2 separate regions of the Homo sapiens genome follow, and region 2 is linked to region 1. The links come from fine-mapping of genetic effects on plasma protein levels. Region 1 holds a variant in brackets. A gene starts in the other region. All regions are shown on one strand. Distances are between the middles of the regions.

Region 1 (8,000 bases):
TGGTTTGCTGCACCCGTTAACTCGTCATTTACATTAGGTATTTCTCCTAATGCTATCCCTCCCCTATCCCCCCATCCCACGACAGGCCTCGGTGTGTGATGTTCCCCAACAGTAATTTTTATCATTACCATTTTTTTAGTTGAACACCTATTACAGCCTGACTCTTAATCATCACTCTGTATCACCCATTATTCTAATTCATTTAATTTTCTCAACAACCTTATGAAATGTTTACTATTATTCCCTTTACAGTGAGGTACTAAGGCACAGAGGTTAAGTAAATAGCCCAGAAACAGAAAGTGAATAAGCGACAAAGCTGAGGCAAAGGCAATTTGGCTTCAGAGTCTATTAGTGGCCACCTTAGACTATCTCTCTTTTGTCCTGTGCTAGCTAGCTACATGGGTTTCTCTGATAATTCTATAAAAATATCTTACTTTACTTAAACAGCCTGACAACTAAGCATTATCAGCATGAAAATCCATTCATTATTTTTTAGACTTTTTATTTCAAAATAATTTTAGATTTACACAAAAGTTACAAAAATAATACACAGAGTTCCCTTTTACTCATCACCTAAGAAATTGCCATAAATAACAATACTATTAATCTCTATTTGAATTTCAACAGTTTTCCTCCACCAATGTCCTTTCTCTGGTCCAGAGTTGAATCCATGATTATATACTGCTTACAGCTGTAGTACCTCCTTAAGTCTCCTCCAATCTAGGACAGTTCTTCAGTATTTAAGTTTCTTAATTTTCCTTTGGAGCAAACTGGCTAATAGCTTTGTGGAATGTCAATCTAGGTTTGTCTGATGCTTCCCATATTTACACTGAGTTTAATCATTTTGGGCAAGAACATGGCAGAAATGATGTTGTATCTTTATCGGTGCCTCATAAAAGGAGATACATGATATCACTACATGTTATTGCTGGTGTTGTTTACTTTCATCACTTGGGTAAGGTGGTGTCTGCCATACTTATATACTACTGGAAAGTTATTATTTTCCTCTTCCTATTACTCAGTATCTTGTACTGAAATCCTCTGGGTTTATGAAAATATCCTGCTTCCCACTTTTACTCACTAATTTTAGCATCCATTAATGATTCTTGCCTACAACATTTATCTCTGTAGTGTTTACCTAATGTTGATTATCTATTTCCATTATTTCTTCTACATTTATTAATTGTAAGGCTACTGTCCTGACAGTGAAGAGGAAGACCTGTCATTTCGTCCTCGTTTATTTCCTTCTTCAGTAGTTTACTTACAAAGTTATTTACTTATGGACTTACTTTACGCTATTACTGTTTATTTTATCCTGAGTAGGCCACTGAGAGATTCTTAAAGTTGGTTCCAATGTACCTTGACAATTCCTTGTTGAGTAACTTTTTTCTTTCTGGCACCATAATTTTACTGCCGCAGCGTAGACTCAGCCATCTTTCTAAGAAGTCCTGATTACTTTTATTGGAGAAATGGGAGAATGGTACTTAGAATACAGTACCTGTGAGCTAGGTACACACATTGCTACTATCGTGTCATTGCTTCCAAGCCATCTCAGCAGAGAGACCTAGGGAGTATATGCATGTATATTCATGCATGAATATACATATCTATATTTACTTATATTTATATCCAGCTGTGTGTGTGTGTGTGTGTGTATATATATATATATATATATATATATATATATATAAAATCATAAGTTGATATTGACACCATGAGGTTCATTCTAACCTTCTCCTTTTCCCATTTGTGAGGAACCTGGCTCTTATTATCCACAATATATTGATTTCTTCACTCAACTGTAGCATACACATAAAGAGTTGTCACTATAGCTAACATATACACCTATGAAAAACAGATTTACCAATTAGAGTATAATATTTATGTATGGTTATTTTTCTCTTTAGCCATATGGCATATAGTCAAAATATTCTTTCCCAAATTTACTTAGGTTCTTTTCTTTTTTCTTTTCCTTTCTTTTCTTTTCCCAACCCCCTTTGTAATACAGTAGGTTCAGTTTTTACTGTGTGCATTTCATTTTGCCCATGCCAACATACACATATATCCTGGTTATCTATCACCTATTTTATCGGGGTATCAGGGACATGAGGCATGACAATAATTCTAAGAGTTATAGTTATATAAAAAGGTATACTCAGAGAAGTGTCATTTCTTCCTACTACCATGGTCCCATTCCCACATTCTTTCCACCCCATTCCTACCCACCCCCTGTAGGTAACTAATCTTATTATTTTCTGGTTTAAACTTCCTGTATTTCTTTTTTTTTTTTGAGACGGAGTCTCACTTTATTGCCCAGGCTGGAGTGCAGTGGCACGATCTCTGCTCACTGCAACCTCCACCTCCCGGGTTTGAGCAATTCTCCTGCCTCAACCTCCCAAGTAACTGGGATTATAGGCATACATCACCATGCCCGGCTAACTTTTGTATTTTTAGTAGAGATGGGGTTTCACCATGTTGGCCAGGCTGGTCTCGATCTCTGAACTCGTGATCTGCCCGCCTCGGCCTCCCAAGGTGCTGGGGTTACAGGAGTGAGCCACCGCACCTGGCCACTTCCTATATTTCTTTTGCAAAAATGAACAGATACACATGTATTTTCCTATGTCTTTCTTTTTACATGAAAGGGAGTATATCGTAAATTTTTTTTGCACTCAGCTTGCTTCAAAATATTCTAGAAATCACTCCATATCAGTTATTATCTTCAGTTTTACAGATGAAGAGACAGGCATAAAGAGGTTAAGTAACTAGCTCAAGGTCCTGTATCTATTAAGGAGTATGGCTGGGATGTGAAACTAAGAAGTTTTGACTCCAGAATCCATGGTCCTTCTTCTACATCAGAGTTTCTTATCTATAGTCCCTGGGTATATTCTTGGGGTATCTCTAGGTTCTCTAAGTTCTCTTACCTCATTTAAAGAATTAATACATCTATCTTCTGGATCATCCAGGTGACTATCTTTCAAGCACTAACAGGCATTTTCATTGTCTGTAGGATCTGAAAATCACCCAACTGCCCAACGTGAATTCTCTCAATACAGTCACACAAGGAAAATTTTAGAGGGAACAGAGACAGCAGTTACCTGGCTGTGGCCTTTACTTGTAGTTCTGGAAAAGCAGCATGGCCTTGTACCATGTGGTCTATCTGAAAAATAAGAGACATGGGTCAATTTTATAGCTTCTTTAATTTATGTATAAGATAGAAAAATTTATATTAAAATGAGTATATGTTTCTTTCAACTCTTTGTCCATACGGGTTCCAAGAACATTAAAATGCCAATGTAGCAAGAGTGCCTCAGCTAAAAGAAATTTAGCTTTGATTTAACCTACTGCTAGCCTCTTAAATACATAAAACAAAGAAGTTTAGAGAGAAGAGTAAACAGAAATGAAATTTCCAAGGCTAAACTGGTAGAAGCAGGTTAGCAACAGGCCCAAGAATGAGAAGGAAGGGTAACTTATGTCAAATGGGGGGGGTCTGAGTGTTAAAAGCACCAACCTTTTCTGGATCACATCATTTCCCCTTCTTGATCTAGGCTGTCATCCCTGGGCAATGTCAAACCTTGAATTACTCACTGTGTCTTACTAATGGAGAAGCTGAATGAAAGAGACTATGATGAGGGTTTTTGAAAAAACCCT[C/A]ATTAAAAAAATTTTTTGAAACTCTCAGTTAAAAAAAATTGAGATGCCCCAGACCTGTCAGGAGAAACTCTCCTGACTGAACAATCATCACATGGGAAACACAGCTCTCCAAGGACAGAAATGTCTGAGCTCTGCAGATAATCACCTCTCATTTGAAATCCCAGGTCTAGGATCTTATTCCTTAATCCACTTGGTGGCTCTAAACAAAATAGTATGAAATATGTATCAGGGACAGAAATGTTTCTCCATGCATTTACTCTGCTTGCCATAACACACCCAAGCAACACCGTGCTTGAGTTCCTGAACCTCATCTGTATATTTTCTGAATGTTTACTTGAGTTTCTAGGATGCTAAAACAACCATTCTGATAGATTTATTTTCATTCCAACAAGGAAAAGATTTGGTCTTTTGGCTGCACAGGGATAGGCTCTCTGAGCATGTTTCCTGAGAGCTAGGGCTGTGTAAAGAAGATAATTTGTTCAGGAGACACAGAGGCCAGGGTTGGGTTCTGGCTCTGAGTCTCACTAGCTGAGTGACTTTGTGCAAGTCACTAAACTGTTTTGAACTTCCATGGCCTCCTTTTAAACAGGATTTCTAGGAAGTTAAGTGTGTCTGCTTGATATGGTTTGTCTGTGTCCCCACCAAAATCTCATCTTGAATTGTAACTCCCATAAATCTCACATGTTGTGGGAGGGACCCAGTGGGAAACAACTGAATCATGGGCGCAGTTTCCCCCATACTGTTTCGTAGTAGTGAATAAGTCTCATGAGATTTGATGGTTTCATAAGGGGTTTCCTGTTTTACTTGGCTCTCATTCCCTCTTGCCTGCCGCCATGTTAGACATGCCTTTCGCCTTCTGCTATGATTGTGACGCCTCCCCAGCCATGTGGAACTATGGGTCCATTACACCTCTTTTTCTGTATAAATTACCCAGTCTCAGGTATGTCCGTATCAGCAGTATGAAAACGGACTAATACACTACTATAGTGCCAACAGTAGTATAAATGATATCACGTGAAATATACTGACTCATTTCCCATACATCAGTACTAACTTAAGCATTGTACACACATTACTCTATTTCATTTATTCCTTATAGCACTCCTATGGAGAAGATACTATTCTTCATTATGGAGATGAGGAAACTGAGCTCAAAGAGATTGAATATCTTGCCCAAGGTCACAGTAAAGTAACGACAAATCTAGGTCTCAAACTGCAGTCTCTATATTTTAAGACCTTGTTCTTAACCACCACGTCATATTGTCTACTGAACTTCCAGGTATACGTTGTTGAATACCATTGGTGCAGTTTTTGTGGAAATGTTTCAAAATGATATCAAAGACATTGGTCATTTCAATGAAAAAAAAAAACTCATGCAGTTATTGAATATTTATCTCCTTCAGGTTCAACTTTGCATTACTGTGATGAAGCATATCCTCATCACACTTTGGATCCCCTGAGTTTGCAATCCACTGAGAGCATCAAGATAAACTCGCTGGGAACAGTAATGGATAATTAGAGGCATTACTTGATTTGATGCTAATTTTTATGGGAAGTGCTTTAGGAGTTCAGAGAAGAGAGATTTAAATGAGCTTCCAGGAGTGAGCTAGAACCTAGCATGTGTGGTGTAAGCATGAATGCAGTTATTTAGTATTTACTAAATGCCTAATGTGCCTCCAGGAACTGTGCACCTAGGTTCCGGAGATACACTGAAAAATAAGAAATAGTTATGATGCATAGCAGCACAAAGTGAGAGATCAATCATTTGGCAATCATTATACAGTTGGAGTAGGTGAAGCTTCAGCTGAGAGGCCATAAATAGGTAGAGTTTGGAGGAGTAAAGGGCTAGAGGCAAGGCATGACAGAAAGGAGGCTGGTTAGTAGAGACATGAAAATGGAAAGACATATATGATTTGAATGGTAACGGACTGGTTTAGCCTCATGCCTGGCATAACATGGGTGGTTAATAAAAGTTTGTGGAATAAATGTGGGATGAGTGAACCACAGGAAAAACACAGATAGCACCATGTACTTCTCCTTGGTGGCACTTACCACACTTTGCATTTGTATCTATTTGTGTTGTGCATACATTGGTCATAGGATTACTGTAGGTTAAATTACAGAATTAGTAAACTGGTGAAAATAAGGATGAATAAAGAGGGCGAAGGCAGACAGTGTGTCTTGAATGTCATAAGAGTTTATACTTTTATTAGATCAAAGGCCATAAAAATTATTTTGATTTGGAGAGAAAAATGATGAAAAGTTAAGAAAAATTTGGTAATGTATAAAGGACAGGGAGATGACCAGGCATGGAGAATAGGAAATGCAGACAAAGATCACAGGTTGGCAATGGGAATATAAGGCACAGATATTTTCTATCCTTACTCTACTGTAGCATCTATCAAGTTCTTTTACAATCCTTAGTTATATGTCTGTCTCTTACCCTATACTCTGAGCTCTTTCAAAGCAAGAGCATCATTATTTTCCACTCCTCAGTGCCTAGAGCAATGCTGACATCTCTAATGAATGAATGATGAGACACATTTTGATAACAATTAAAAATGCTGATCAAAATACAGCAAATAGTTCTCTGAAGACACTGGAAAGTGGCCAAAACCAGGTAGAAACTGGAGAGGAGTAGACACAAGGAAGGAAAAAACAGTACTTTGTGTGTTTCCTGATTTTATACATTTTTGCCCATGGGTGGACCCCAGTCAGTGGCATGCAAGATAACTAATACTCAGATAGAAATACACAGTCTTTCTGATTAAGAAATGAGAGGTTAGAGTTCAAGGCAACCATAGTAGCTAGGAAGTAAGTTGTGGAGGGGATGTCAGAAAGAGAGAGCCATAGAAAGGGAATGCAACACTGTGCCTATAAATGCTACCCTAATTTCTGGATGATCTCTCAATTACATGTGCATGGGAACACCAGAAGTAGTCCAGCTAAGGCTAAAATAATGCAACAGAGATTTTAGGACATGTTCATCACAGGAGAGTAACAAAACTTGAAGTTTGAGTTCAGCCAAATAAACTGCCTGCTAAACCAAAAAATCAATACTCAAAAGAGAAACAGAAATAATACAGTGTCTCTAGAATATATCAATCACAATGTCCAAAATATGACCCCAAATCATTATACATATTGAGGAACAGGAAAATGTAATCCATACTTAAGAGAAAAGCCACTTAGTGAACACCAAATCTGAGGTGACACAGGCGTTAGAAGATAAGAATTTTAAAGTAGGTATTTTAACAATGCTTAAGGATGTAAAAGAAAAATATTCTCATAGTTATTAAACAGAGAGGAAACAGCAAAGAAACAAACTATTAAAATACAAATGTAATAGTATTGATTAAATACAATATCTGAAATAAATATATAGTAGATGGGCCTAAGAGCTGATTGGAGATGACCAACAAAAGTGTCCTCGTGAGAATGAGACTTAGACTGGGAGACTTAGAGAGAGAGAAAGAGAGAGAGAGAATATGAATGAGAATATATATTGAAAAAATTAACACCCTGAGTCTCTCAGGGGCATGGGAGACAATAGCCAAAGGTACCATATATGTGGAATTGGAGTCACAGTAAGAGGGAAGAGAGCAAGGAGAAGAAACAAACAAAAAAAAATTAAATGCTGAAAATTTCCCAAACTTGGTGAAAGGAATCAACTTACAAATTCAAGAAAGATGAATCCAAAGAAGACCACGCCATACCGTAATAAAAGCCAAAGATTAAGAGAAAATTTGAAAGCAGCCAGAGGAAAAAAATGACATATTATATAAAGGGAAAGAATGACAAAAATAATGGTTGACTTCTTATAAGAAATAATAATGTCAGAATAGAAAATACTAACATTTTAAGGTGCTGATGGAAAAAAAAACCTGTAAATCAAGAATTCTATAGTGAGCAAAAATATCTTTCAAGGCAGCATATAAAATAAATGCATTGAAAAAAAATAGAGAGAATGTCTTTTGCCAGTTGACCTGCACTGTAAGACATGCTAAGACAAGTTCTTTTTTTTTTTTTTTTTTTTTGAGACGGAGGCTAAGACAAGTTCTTTAGGCTTGGGAAAAGATATCACATGGAAACTCAAATTTTCAGAAAGAAAGGAAAAGCAATAAAAATAGTAATTATGTAGGTAAATACAAAAGACTATGGTTTATTTCTCAGAATTTCTTTAAAACATTTATGTATCTTTGACATGGACTAAACTGTGTTCACCTCAAATTCATATATTGAAGCCTCAATCCCAAATGTGACTGTATTTAGAGATATGGCTCTTACGGGGGTAATTAAGGTTAAACAGCTCATGACAGTGGGGCCTTAATCTGATATAACTGGTGTTCTTA
Region 2 (11,646 bases), 99 Mb before region 1:
AGCTGGTTGTTATGTAGACTTAATTGTGTAGTTCCTTTATAGTGTCACTGGTCTGTTTACTTAAGTGCATTTATGTGGTGGCTGGTAAGAGTCTTTTATTTCCATGTTTAGCACTCCCTTAATGACTTCTTATAAGGCAGGTCTGGTGGTAATAAATTTCCTTAGCATTTGCTTTGCTGAATTTCTCTTTAACATATAAATCTTACTTGGGCTGGATATGAAATTTTGGGTCAGAATTTCTTTTCTTTAACAATGCTGAATATAGGCCCTCAATGTCTTCTGGCTTCTAAGGTTTCTGCTGAAAGGTATGCTGTTAGCTTGATTGGGGTCCCTTTGTAGGTGACCTGCTCCTCCTCTCTGGTTGCCTTTAGTATTTTTTTCTTTCACATTGACCTTGGATAATCTTATTATTGTGTATCTTGAGGATGGTTTTCTAGTGTAGTATCTCTCAGGAGTTCTCTGAATTTCTTGAATTTGAATGTTGACCTCTATAGTGAAGTTGAGAAAATTGTCATGGACAATATCCTCATATATGTTTTCAATTGTTTGCACACTCTCTCTCTCTCTCTTTCAGGGACATCAGTGAGTACAGGTTTGGTCTCTTTACATAACCTCATATTTCTCAGAGATTTTGTTCATCCTTCTGTATTATTTTTTCTTTATTTTGTGTGACTGAGTTAATTAGAAGAACTGGTCTTTGAGCTCTGAGATTCTTCCCTCAGTGTGGTCTATTCTGCCTTTAATACTTCCAATTGTATTATAAAATTCTTTAGTGAATTTTTTAGCTCTGTCAAATCAGCTTAGTTCTTTCTTAAAATGGCTATTTTGTCTTTCAGTTATTGTATTATTTTACTGGATTCCTTAAATTCTTTGGATTCCATTTCAACTTTCTCCTGAATCTCATGATTTTCATTGCCATCCAGATTCTAAAATCTATGTCTATTATCTCAGCCATTTTAGTCTGGTTAGGAAAGATTGTTGGGGAGCTAGTGTGTTCATTTGGAAGTAAGAAGACACTCTGACTTTTAGAGCTGCCTGAGTTCTTCCACGGGTTCTTTCTCATCTATGTGGGCTGATGTTCCTTAAACGTTTAAAGTTGCTGTCCTTTTGATGGGGCCTTTTGCTTTTATATTCTTTGATGCCCTTGAGGCTTTGACTATGGTATAGGTTTGGGTCAGTGAGCTAGCTTTATTTCTTGATGATTTCAGGGGGCCATGGCTCAGCTCAGCACTCCTGGGCTATATGCTCTAAGACTGAGGGCCTGGGACCAGGCCCAGAACCTTGTTCTTTGGCCCCTTGAGACTGAGCACCTGCTTCACTGGAGGGGGCCAAGGTGCTCCCAGTCCACTAGCAACAACACTCCTATGGTGGGCAGGGTGGGGGGGTCCCAGAAAAGCATTTCATAAGGGCAGTGGCGGTGGGGGTCTGCTCTCACATGCATGTACTGGCAGCAGTGGGGCAGTGGCATGGTGGGGTCCACACTCACTCACATGCTGGTGGTGGTGGGGCAGCAGGGTAGAAGGTCCATGCACATGTACACCAGGGATGGTAGTGTGGCAGGGTACATGCACGCATGTAGGCTAGTGGGGACAGTGCAGCAGTGGTGAGGTCTCCATGCATATGTGCACAGAAGTGGTAGCAAGGCAGTGATGTCTGTGTATGTATGCCAGCAAAGCAGTTGTGGGTGCTGAAGGCAGGTGCATGCTGATGTGAGGCCAGTGACAGAAGCTATTTGGTGGTTTGGTGGGGTCAGCCAGTGAAAGACCTATGGCAGTGGTCTCTGAGAACTGCCTCAGTTGAACATCTGAGGCTGTGCTGCAAGCAGGTACAGACAGGCAGGGATCCTGGGAGAGGCCAGCAGACATGGGGTGGGGGGCTCAGATCAGTCTAGCCCCATCCAAATATCATGGTAGCCCTATTCTGTCCAGGTCTGATAGTCAACAAAGGGGTCAAAGCCACCTAGAGGAGCATGCCAATCCTCGGGTAATGGACATCCCTAACCATGCTCCACTGTAGCTGTTCTCACACCAAACCCTCTGGGTTCCATAGAAGCTGGAGTCCTGTCCCTGCCAACTCTGCAAGTAGCTTTCCCTGCCAACTCAAATGTCTGTGTGGGTCGTGGGGGTCTCCTGCAGCTAGGATTCCAGAGGTTCATGGATAGAGTGGGCCACTTCATGCCTATTTAACCAACCCCTTCCCTAGAAGCCACTGAGGACCAAGAATAAGTCCTAGTGTTTGGCAACCCTGTGTAGGGTTCGCAGCTTCTTCCCCCCTTCAGCCCAGGGTCTGCATTCTCCCTCCATCCACTCTCAATGCCTTCTTTCCAATGATCTTCTCAGAGTATACTGCTCTTCTTGATGGTCTTGTCTCTTGGTGGGAGAAGCTCTTCCTGGCTGCATCTAGTCAGCCATCTTGTCTCTTCTCCCAAAAATAAGTTTAATTTTATATATTTTTGGCTTTATTTCCCAGTTTCCTGGGTGTCCTAGAATCCTCTCTATTGATCTCTCTGTATCTGCAGGTCACAGGGTGACTAAGGGTGCAGGAGAGTCACCTAGGGCCTCCTGGTGCCAAGGAAATGAGCAATGGAAGCAGGACCCAAGCTGGGTGAGTGGGCACAAGGAGACAAAGGCCCTGCCAGATCTGGGAAGCCACCTCCTCCTCCAAAAAAAGTTATATTCATACATGGAATTCTATTCAGCAATGAAAAGGAATGGTTACTAATACACTGAGCAGCATGGATTACTTACAACCATATGCTAAACTGAAGAAAAATAAAAGGCAATACCAAGTAGATATGTTTATTTCCATCTTAATAAAATCATAGAAAATACAAGTTTAAGCTTAAGTGACATAAAGTATATCAGTAGTTGCAAGAATGCCAGGTTGTTGGTGTGCTTGACTACAAACAGGTATGAGGGGTTATGACATTTAATATCTTGATTGTGATTTTGTTTACATGGGCTTATATAATTATCAAAATAAATAGAACTGTACACTTAAAGATTCAAATTTTACTATAAATTATACATCAATAAAATCTATTTAAAATTTTTTGAAATAAATAAAAACATGAAAACAATAGAAAAGAAACATGGACAGATTGAGGAAGCAAACATTGCAACTTCAGGAGAGTGGACACAATCTCATTTGTTTTATCCACCACCAGTTTAGAAGCTGTATGTGCCTGTCTCAACTCAGTACCCAAAAAATATTAGTTGAATTAGTGAATGAAACCTAAAGGGACTAAAGTTTAGCCAAGGCTATCTCAGATAACACAGTCCTTTAGGAAATTTGTCTTCCATATACAGCACAACGGTTGCCTTGATCCCACTCCAACCCTGAGGACCAAATCTCTTGTTCCTTTTCTTAAGTATTCTGTGACATATCTGCACCACTGATCATCACATGTAACTTGCACACTCTCTGTCTATTTGCATTTGTAATTCTCTGTGTTTAGAAAATAAGTGTATCAAGGCACAAGGCTGCACTTTTCCTTAAATGTTTAAGGAGAAAATGAGGGAGCTAAAGGAGAGTGGAATTTATCTGCTAGGTATGAAGCATTTAAACAAAAAGAGAAGCATGAATATTTCCAATGCTACAACAACATTGGGAAGGAATATAATGAGAAAAATTGTCAACATGACAGTTAATCCAACTTAGATATGATGTTTTGTTTTGTGTTTCACTGAGCCTATCATATGCAGGAAAGGCACATTTATCATGATCCTTGCCTCCTAAAAGCTTAAAAATGTGAAATGAAAGACTCAAGTAGCTGCAACACAGGGTAGGAAGTGTTGCATGCACATAACAGTTGAGGGGCTCTCTGGGTTCAGTATGGGTCAAGGAAGATCGTTGGAGGAAATGACATCAGAAATGGGCTTTGAAGGTTGAGTGCTATATAAAAAGTGGAGATTCCAAGAAAAACATTCCAAATTAGAATTTGGTTTTTATTAACAAATGTTTATTATGCAGAAAGAGAAACAATTTAAATGGAGAGTCGACGGGATGGCATCACTATATTGTACTAGGCTCCTGGGTTGCTGGGTTCTTAACACAATGGGGGAGTCAGGGGGAAGAGTCTCACAGGATGTCCTGATATGAGCTGTGAAGGAACAGGAATGGGAGAAACCCTGAATAAGTTGGAGGTGGTAACTGAGGATAAGGTGGAGTAGTCAATAGAGAAAAGCTAAGAGAGTGAAAAATGGAATGTGAAATAAGAAACTGGGAGGAGAGGAGGAAATACAAAAAACTCACCAGTGCTTCTTAAACCATAACACAAGGACTATTAGAATCACCAAGGGCACTATCACTACCAAGGCAATCCAATTCATGGAAAAGTGGTGTCCTGCACATATTGGAAAGATACATGGATGCCATTTTAAACTCACTGCTGATTCTATTCCATCTATTGATTTCCTTACTTAACATATGCATTGGATGAGTTGCATCAGTTATCCTATTTCAGTCACTCTATTCCAAAACTTACTCAAGGAAGGATTCCTCATTTCCCCTTAAATCTCTAGTATCCATGTATCCCTTAGGTCTTACTCCACTATTCTTTAAATTACCCTATACATTTCTTCCTACAATCCCTCACCTAGGTCTGCTATCCTCAAAATTTCCTCTCCCCTAACCTCTAGGCTCAAGAACCACCTACCTACACTTCCAACCTCCAGTCTTACCCCAGTAGAGGATGATGTCCTGGCCTCCTAGACTGCTGTGTCTCACTCGACAAGACAGGCCAGCAGGCTCCTCAGATGCCACCTCCAGGATCACCTGAAGATACCATGTCCCATCAGCATTAGGAAGAATATCACCATGTTTAGTGCCCAGTTGCTCCTGTTCATTCCGCATCCATGTCACCCAAACAGGCTTTGGGTAGAAGCCGGAGGCATGACAAACCAGCAACAGCTGGCCAGACCCAAGGCTGGGGCGACTGGACAGCCAGGCTTCTGGCCTCACTGCAGAGAGCAGAAAAAGTGTTCTGATGAAGAAACTTACACACAACTTACATCCACATACACACATCCACATGAATATGCACAGTTATCTTTTTCCTGCCTCTAAGAAACTATTACCCAGCAACCCCCCTGCTTCTTGTCCTCTTTCTTGTCCTGAGTTTGAAGGGTGGGAACAGAAGGGGCAGTACTTGAATAGAAAAATCTTAGAGGAAGGGGCTGAAACTACTGACCTTGCCTGTGTACATACATCTTCCCTGCATCCAGGAGACCCAAGAGAAATCGGGGGCAAGTGCTTCTTATGAGATTATACACTGTTTCTGTGACGCCTTCATACTGATGATTGAGTAGATGACAGACACTTTGGGCCAAACTTCCACAGCCTGGAGATGGCACCCATGTTGTATTCTGGAAACTCAGTAAATCTAATCCGTTGAAAGCTACCTGAAAGAAGCCTTCTGGGCTCTTTCCAGAATGCAGCTCACAGCCCGCTTTCACCTGTACTTCAAAGGGATCTGGAGGAAGGGAGGAATGAGAAAAAGAGTTCAAACAAAAAAGTGAAAACAACAGTATAAAAACCTAGGGCTGTATCAGGAAGTGAAGCAAGAAAGTTTTACATGGATGTGAGAGTGAGCCAAAGACATATTTGATCAGAAACAAGAGAGAAAAATTGCTGGGGATAGGGAAGGGGACAATAAGAGATAAATGCCTTGAATTAACAAGAAAAAGTGGCCAAGGAAGATGTGGAAAAATGATAGGTGAGCCACATAATATAGGATAGAGGGTGAAGGGGGAGCCTTTGTGAGGGAGGTAGGAGGATAGCATTCCATGACGCATGAAATTGGTCATAATGGTCATTGAACTGTGGACATAGATCTTTGAAGAAATTGAATGGGGGAATAGATTTTATTTTAAGGGAGTCAAGCACAGAGTGGGACAGCTGTGTATCTCTGGATTGTAGGATACAGAGGGAGACCACAGGTGGAAGATAACAAAGCACAAGAAAAAAAATTCCAAAAATAGCAAGAGCCTAGGAAATTTGAGGGAGTCAACATCAGGAATATCCCTTAAAAGGTTCATCTATGCAGAATTTTATGGTGGGATGGGATAATGGGAAATGGCCCAAAAATTAGTAGAGAATATTTCCCTGAAATAGAACATTCTAAAGAACTCCCATAATTTAGATGATTGAACTTACATTTCGAGTAATCTTGACTTGCATGGTCTTGAATCTCCCGAGTTAATCCAAAGAGGTAGAAACGAAATAACAACTCTAGGTCTGACAACTCTTCATTGCTGAAGTTGCCCTTGGACCAGTTATGCAGGAAAATTATTGTGCCTGATTCACTGTCCCAGCCATGAGTCTGCAACTCGTCCAGCCATCCTGAGCCCTGACCTCGTGCCCAGGATTGGTTGACAAATGAGAAGATCTGGATGACATGGAAGGAGACGTGTTCCTGGGATGCTTTTGGTGGAAGAAGGGCAAGTAGTGTAAGGAAAAAAAAAAAAAGAGAGGCAAGGAAAATGGAGAGAAAATGGAAGGTGAACCAGTTACCACAGAGAAACATTAATGACTACTTTAGCTATACCATTTTCCTTACACAGAGCCCCATGCTCTGCCACCATCCTCTAAAAGAGTAAACTGGACCTGGAGAGAGGTATGCTCAAATGGCAACCATTCTGGCTTCTTCATTGATCCATCTTGGGAAAGCCCATCATGCTCAACCCAGATACATGTAACCTTGCAGCTGACAGAGATGTTCATACTATCTGCATTGTCACCACCGGGGAGGAGAAGAACTAGCAGCGGAAACTACAGAAACAGCATGTCATTTGCAGTTGTTTCCTTCTCTCAGAAAAGCCATTTGCTGATCTCTGTTCTTAGCAAACTTATCCCTCTACATCTATATTCTGACTTCCTTCTACCAACAGACAATCTTCCCCATCAGCCACTGACAGCAACTAAGACAATCTGCTTCCCTTAACCTTAGGCCTCCTACTCAATCTCTCATTTCCCCATCTGCTCTGAACTAAAGTTACTCTCTTCCCTTAGGATTTTAGCTGCTCTCCCACTAAGCTCCATCTTATCTACTTCCCTTCCTCAACTGCCTTAGACAAAGTGGTGCGTGGCATTGAAAGGTTGCTTCATCCCTCTGGACCTTGCGTGTCATTTGTAACATAAAAAGGAGAAACCACATCATTTTCCTGGGCCCTGATTGTTTTAACGGAAAATGGAGAGGAAATGGAAATTGAACCAGTTACCACAGAGAAACATTAATGACTACTTTAGCTATAACATTTTCCTTACACAGAGCCCATGCTCTGCCACCATCCTCCAAAAGAGTAAACTGGACCTGGAGACAGGTATGCTCAGATGGCAAGCATTCTGGCATCTCTATTGATCCATCTCGGGAAAGCCCAGCACACTCTACCCAGATACATGTAACCTTGCAGCTGACAGCGATGTTCTTACCGTCTGCATTGTCACCACCTGGGAGAAGAAGAGCTAGCAGCAGAAACTGCAGAAACAGCATGTCATTTGCAGATGTTTCTTTCTCTCAGAAAAGCTGTTTGCTGATCTCTGTTCTTAGCAAACTTATCCCTCTGTACCTATATTCTGACTTCCTTCTACCAACAATCTTCCCCATCAGCCGCTGACAGCAACTAAGAAGATCTGCTTCCCTCAACCTTGGTCCTCCTACTCAATCTCTCATTTCCCCACCTGCTCTGAACTAAAGTTATTCTCTTCTCTCAGGATTCCAGCTGCTCTGCCACTAAGCTCCATTATATCTACTTCCCTTCCTCAACTGCCTTAGACAAAGTGGTGTATGGCATTGAAAGAAAGGTCATTTTGTCCCTCTGGATTTTGCATGTCATTTGTAAGATAAAAAGGAGAAACCATGTCATTTTTTCAGTTCCTGCTTGTTTTAATAGATCACAGTTCTTCCAGTTTCTCCACTTAACTTTGCCTCCACTCTCCATAGTGTCCCCTCTTCTCATCACTCCATTCTTTCTTTCCCCCTTTTGAATGTCCTCAAAGTTTTCTCTTTCCAATTTCACCTCTTTTCACCCATCTTTCTTATTTCCTCATTCTCACTGATTCTTTTATAAATTGGAGACGTTGCTTTTTACATCTTCCAAGATTTCCCTGCACAATTATATAAACTACAGTCCACTCTACATTATCCTTAGAGATTAAATTGCAGCCATTCAGAATGCATAGGACCATAACAAATATAAAGAAGCCCTTCTACTGCATTTAATCTGTATAGTCATTCACTAAAAAATTACATAGTACATGGTTGATACCAGTGTCTTACTAGGCATATAAACACACAGAGGTTAACAATGTAATCTCTTCTATCAAAGAGTTTTAAACTGCAGATGTTTAAACAAAAAATTAAAATGCATTGTGATTTTAATTTCAATGTATAGAATCCCAGATACAAATCTACTTAGAACTATATTCTCTAGAGCAGCATTTTGACTGACTAACCCCCTGGGAAGTTCATAATTTGAAGTCCTGGAAGAACAGCATGCATCTCAACTAAATACTGAAAATTCTGTACAGTGTGGAATGGTATACGATTGTGATAGTCAGAACATGCAGCTTTTCAAGAGGACTCATACATGGGGAGACCACAAAAATCCAAATTTAAGTTGTTTTGTGATCTGACCAAAACACATTGTATAAAAAGGGCAGCATTTGTCAATGTTTGATTTAAGTAGTTTATATGAAGTATTCAGTGACTTATCAGTGACCCTGGCTGGTTAATATGTGTAAATACATGAACACAGTTTTTTTGAGATCCAGGAAATACATTTATTATTATAGTGTTTCTTAAATCATATTAATTATTCACTGAATGCATTGGAGCAGTCACTTAAAATCTGGGCATGAATTTGTGCTAGGCACAATGACTCATGCCTGTAATCCCAGCACTTTGGGAGACCAAGGTGGGAAGATCACTTGAGCCCAGGAGTTTGAGACCAGCCTGGGCAACAAAGTTAGACCTCATCTCGATAAAAAAATTAAAAAGTTGGCCAAATGTGGTGGCACATGCCTGTAGTCCCAGCTAAATGGGAGGCAGAGGCAGGAAGATCTTTTGAGCCCTGAAAGTCAGGGCTGTAGTGAGCCATGTTCATGTCACTGTACTCCAGCCTGGGTAACAGAGCAAGACCGTGCCTTAAAAAGGAAAATCCCATTTGTAACATTGTTTCTGTTTTAAATTTATATTTATTCTATGTATTTACTGTGTACAACATGATACTTTGATATATACACTATTTCTTAGGTTTGTCAACGTTAATAGTGAGGCCAGAAGTCATTCTCAATGAGCTCTTCCTATCATGGCCACAGATATGTGGCAATTTCTATGAACTATAATATCTTTAAGAGCAATACCCAGTTCAAATCCTACCCAAATCATTCATAAGCACTAGGTGTTATCTTTGCTCATCTTGTGCTGTTAATGGCAAATACTTGGTTTGTGGTTTTAGAAAACAATAGTAGATACCACATTATGTGTTTATTCACATTTTTTTCCATGTTCCTACAGGAAAGATGCAACTGTCCTATTTCCTAATAGTTGGGTTAAGGTCATGGACTGAGTTCTGGGCAATGGAATGTGTGGTGTTGGAAGCATTAGCCAGCTCCAGTCCTGACCACTGAAAATATCACATCTGATCATCTTACCCTGTGGTACCAACTTGGCAGTCAAATTTCTAAATGGCAAGACTATGAGATGGAGAAGAGCAGCCTGATCTACATGCAGTTTAACTGCATGAGAAATAAACTTCATTGTGTTAAGCCTCCAAGTTCTAAAGTTTATTTATAACTGCAACATAACCTAGCTATATTGGATAATATTATAAAACCCAGTAAGTATCATCCTTTTTGCCCTCTTGAATTCAGAAGCAAACAAGTTGAAAATAACATGAGATAGATGGATCTAATGGTCAATCTTGACTTCTGATAGTGCCACTAGATAATTTGCTTTAAGTGTGTAATCCAAGTGATCTTGCTCATACTGGACCCTAAATGGAGTGGCCTTCTCATTGTTATGGACTGAAAGTTTGTGTACCCTCCCAAAGAAAAAAAAAATCACATGTTGAATCCCTAACTCTCAGTGTGATTATATTTGGAAATGGGGCCTCTAAGAAGTAATGTCAATCTCATGTCTAAACGGTAAGACCCTGATCCAATAGGCTTAGTGTCCTTATAAGAAGAGACACTGGAGTGCCCTTCCACTTTCCTTCTCTGTCTCTCTGTCTCTCCCTGTCGCTCTCTGTCTCTGTGTGTGTGTGTGTGTGTGCACCCACCATGGAAAGGCCATATGAGCTCATAGTGAGAAGGCAGTTGTCTGTATAAACCAGGAAGAGAACCTTCACTAGAAACTGAGTCTTCCAGATGGAGACTTTGAACTTCTAGCCTCTAGAGCTGTGAGAGAATAACTTCCTGTTGTTTAAGCCACCCAGCTGATTGCCTTGTGTTAGCACAGCCCAAGAAGACTAATACACTCACTTATTTCAGGCAATGCTGATAAAACCCTAAGTTCCCCACCTGAGCAGCTGTTCCTGTGAGAGCCAGGGCCTGGAGGAGGAGAGCAAGACTGAGCCTTTGGGGAGCAACTTGCCCAGAGAGGTAAAGGGCAGTAGGAGGTGCTGATATATACTTGCCCAGTTTCCCTCCTGAATTTATCAGTGAGATAAATCAGTCTGTTTTCAGAGGAAAGATTAAGGGGTGAGGAAAAAAAAACAAAAAGTATTTATGGGAAATTCCCCCTCAGGGTGCCTAGAAGAGTAAGTAACACCCTCACCCCCATCATGGCAATACGCATTCAAATAGATACCTAGAAATGTGTGTTCTCCGAAAACTTCCCTCTCCTTTGCTCCACACAGTCACCATGTCATTTCTCTCCCTCCACCTGGTTTTTCCTCTCTGATCTGACTGATATGTAGTCCTGCTTTCATCCTGTGGGACAGAGATCACAGCCACAGTCCCTGCCGGTGTGTCACAGTCCATATCCCTCCATGTCCATGCAGTGCTCTGCCCCAGAGCTGCCATGGAAAACGTGATCCTTAGAATGTCTATCAGCCTAAAATATTCAAATTGCTTTCATGAAAAATAACCCAGACTCCTAAGTATGACAATTTTATACACAAGAGTTTATGTACATCTATCCCTAAAAAGGAAGGGTGGAGGTAGTGTAAGAAGGGAAACTGGCAGACTCTTTACACTGGTGAATACTTATAAATATAGATGCAAGAATCTGAAATTGATATAAAATGCAATGGGGAGAGGAGTAAGTGGTTATTAAGCTCTCTGAACACACAAAATCCTAAGAGAATAATCTGAAGTGGGTAGGACACCCTATGATTAGAACCCAGCCTGAACAGAGGGGCTGGGTTGTCCCGAGGGAGCCCAGTGCTCTTCCTGTCCTTCCCCAACTTCCCTTTTCTTGTCCTTTTGCTCAGACCACAGACGTTGTTGTGTTTGCCTTCGCCTGGGCTCTTCTTGCCTGTCACTTCCCTAAGACCACTCTAGTGGGTGACTTTTGCACCCCGAGAGAGAGAGAGATTTCCTCAGAACTCCAGTGTCATGTTCCCACCCCACACAGCTCTGTCATCCCTTCCTCCCAGCAGAAACCTTGCCCTCTGCCTACTTCCCCATTACGGAAACCCCACA

Which allele goes with the higher level. Alleles are on the strand shown, and positions count from the first base shown. The strength of an association depends on the size of the effect and on how common the allele is.
For the plasma level of the protein whose gene starts at base 7,634 in region 2, allele C in region 1 goes with a higher level than allele A (weak association).

Evidence for each region. A credible set is the group of variants that fine-mapping cannot tell apart. PIP is the chance, under the fine-mapping model, that this variant and not a neighbour inherited with it causes the effect. The UK Biobank Pharma Proteomics Project read protein levels with antibody pairs (Olink). The fine-mapping took linkage between variants from a reference panel, not from the people measured, so its PIPs are less certain.
Region 2: CD1C starts here. The variant in region 1 is the best candidate, but not a certain one, in a credible set for the plasma level of the CD1C protein (UK Biobank, PIP 0.58).

What each region holds. Positions count from the first base shown.
Region 1 is chr1:59,621,145-59,629,144 of GRCh38, reverse strand. It overlaps FGGY (FGGY carbohydrate kinase domain containing), which reads right to left. Exons shown (of 16, transcript NM_018291.5): 10 at 3,096-3,157. Among named protein-coding and RNA genes, the nearest start is that of MIR4711, 110 kb to the left of the region's middle. The variant C/A (reference allele first, on the strand shown) is at 3,649.
Region 2 is chr1:158,285,911-158,297,556 of GRCh38, reverse strand. CD1C (CD1c molecule) reads right to left here and starts at 7,634. Exons shown (of 6, transcript NM_001765.3): 1 at 7,432-7,634; 2 at 6,157-6,423; 3 at 5,192-5,473; 4 at 4,683-4,961; 5 at 4,255-4,345; 6 at 2,783-4,102. The coding sequence starts at 7,492. The coding sequence ends at 4,081. It also overlaps a transcript of CD1B not described here. RefSeq lists an enhancer at 10,584-10,713.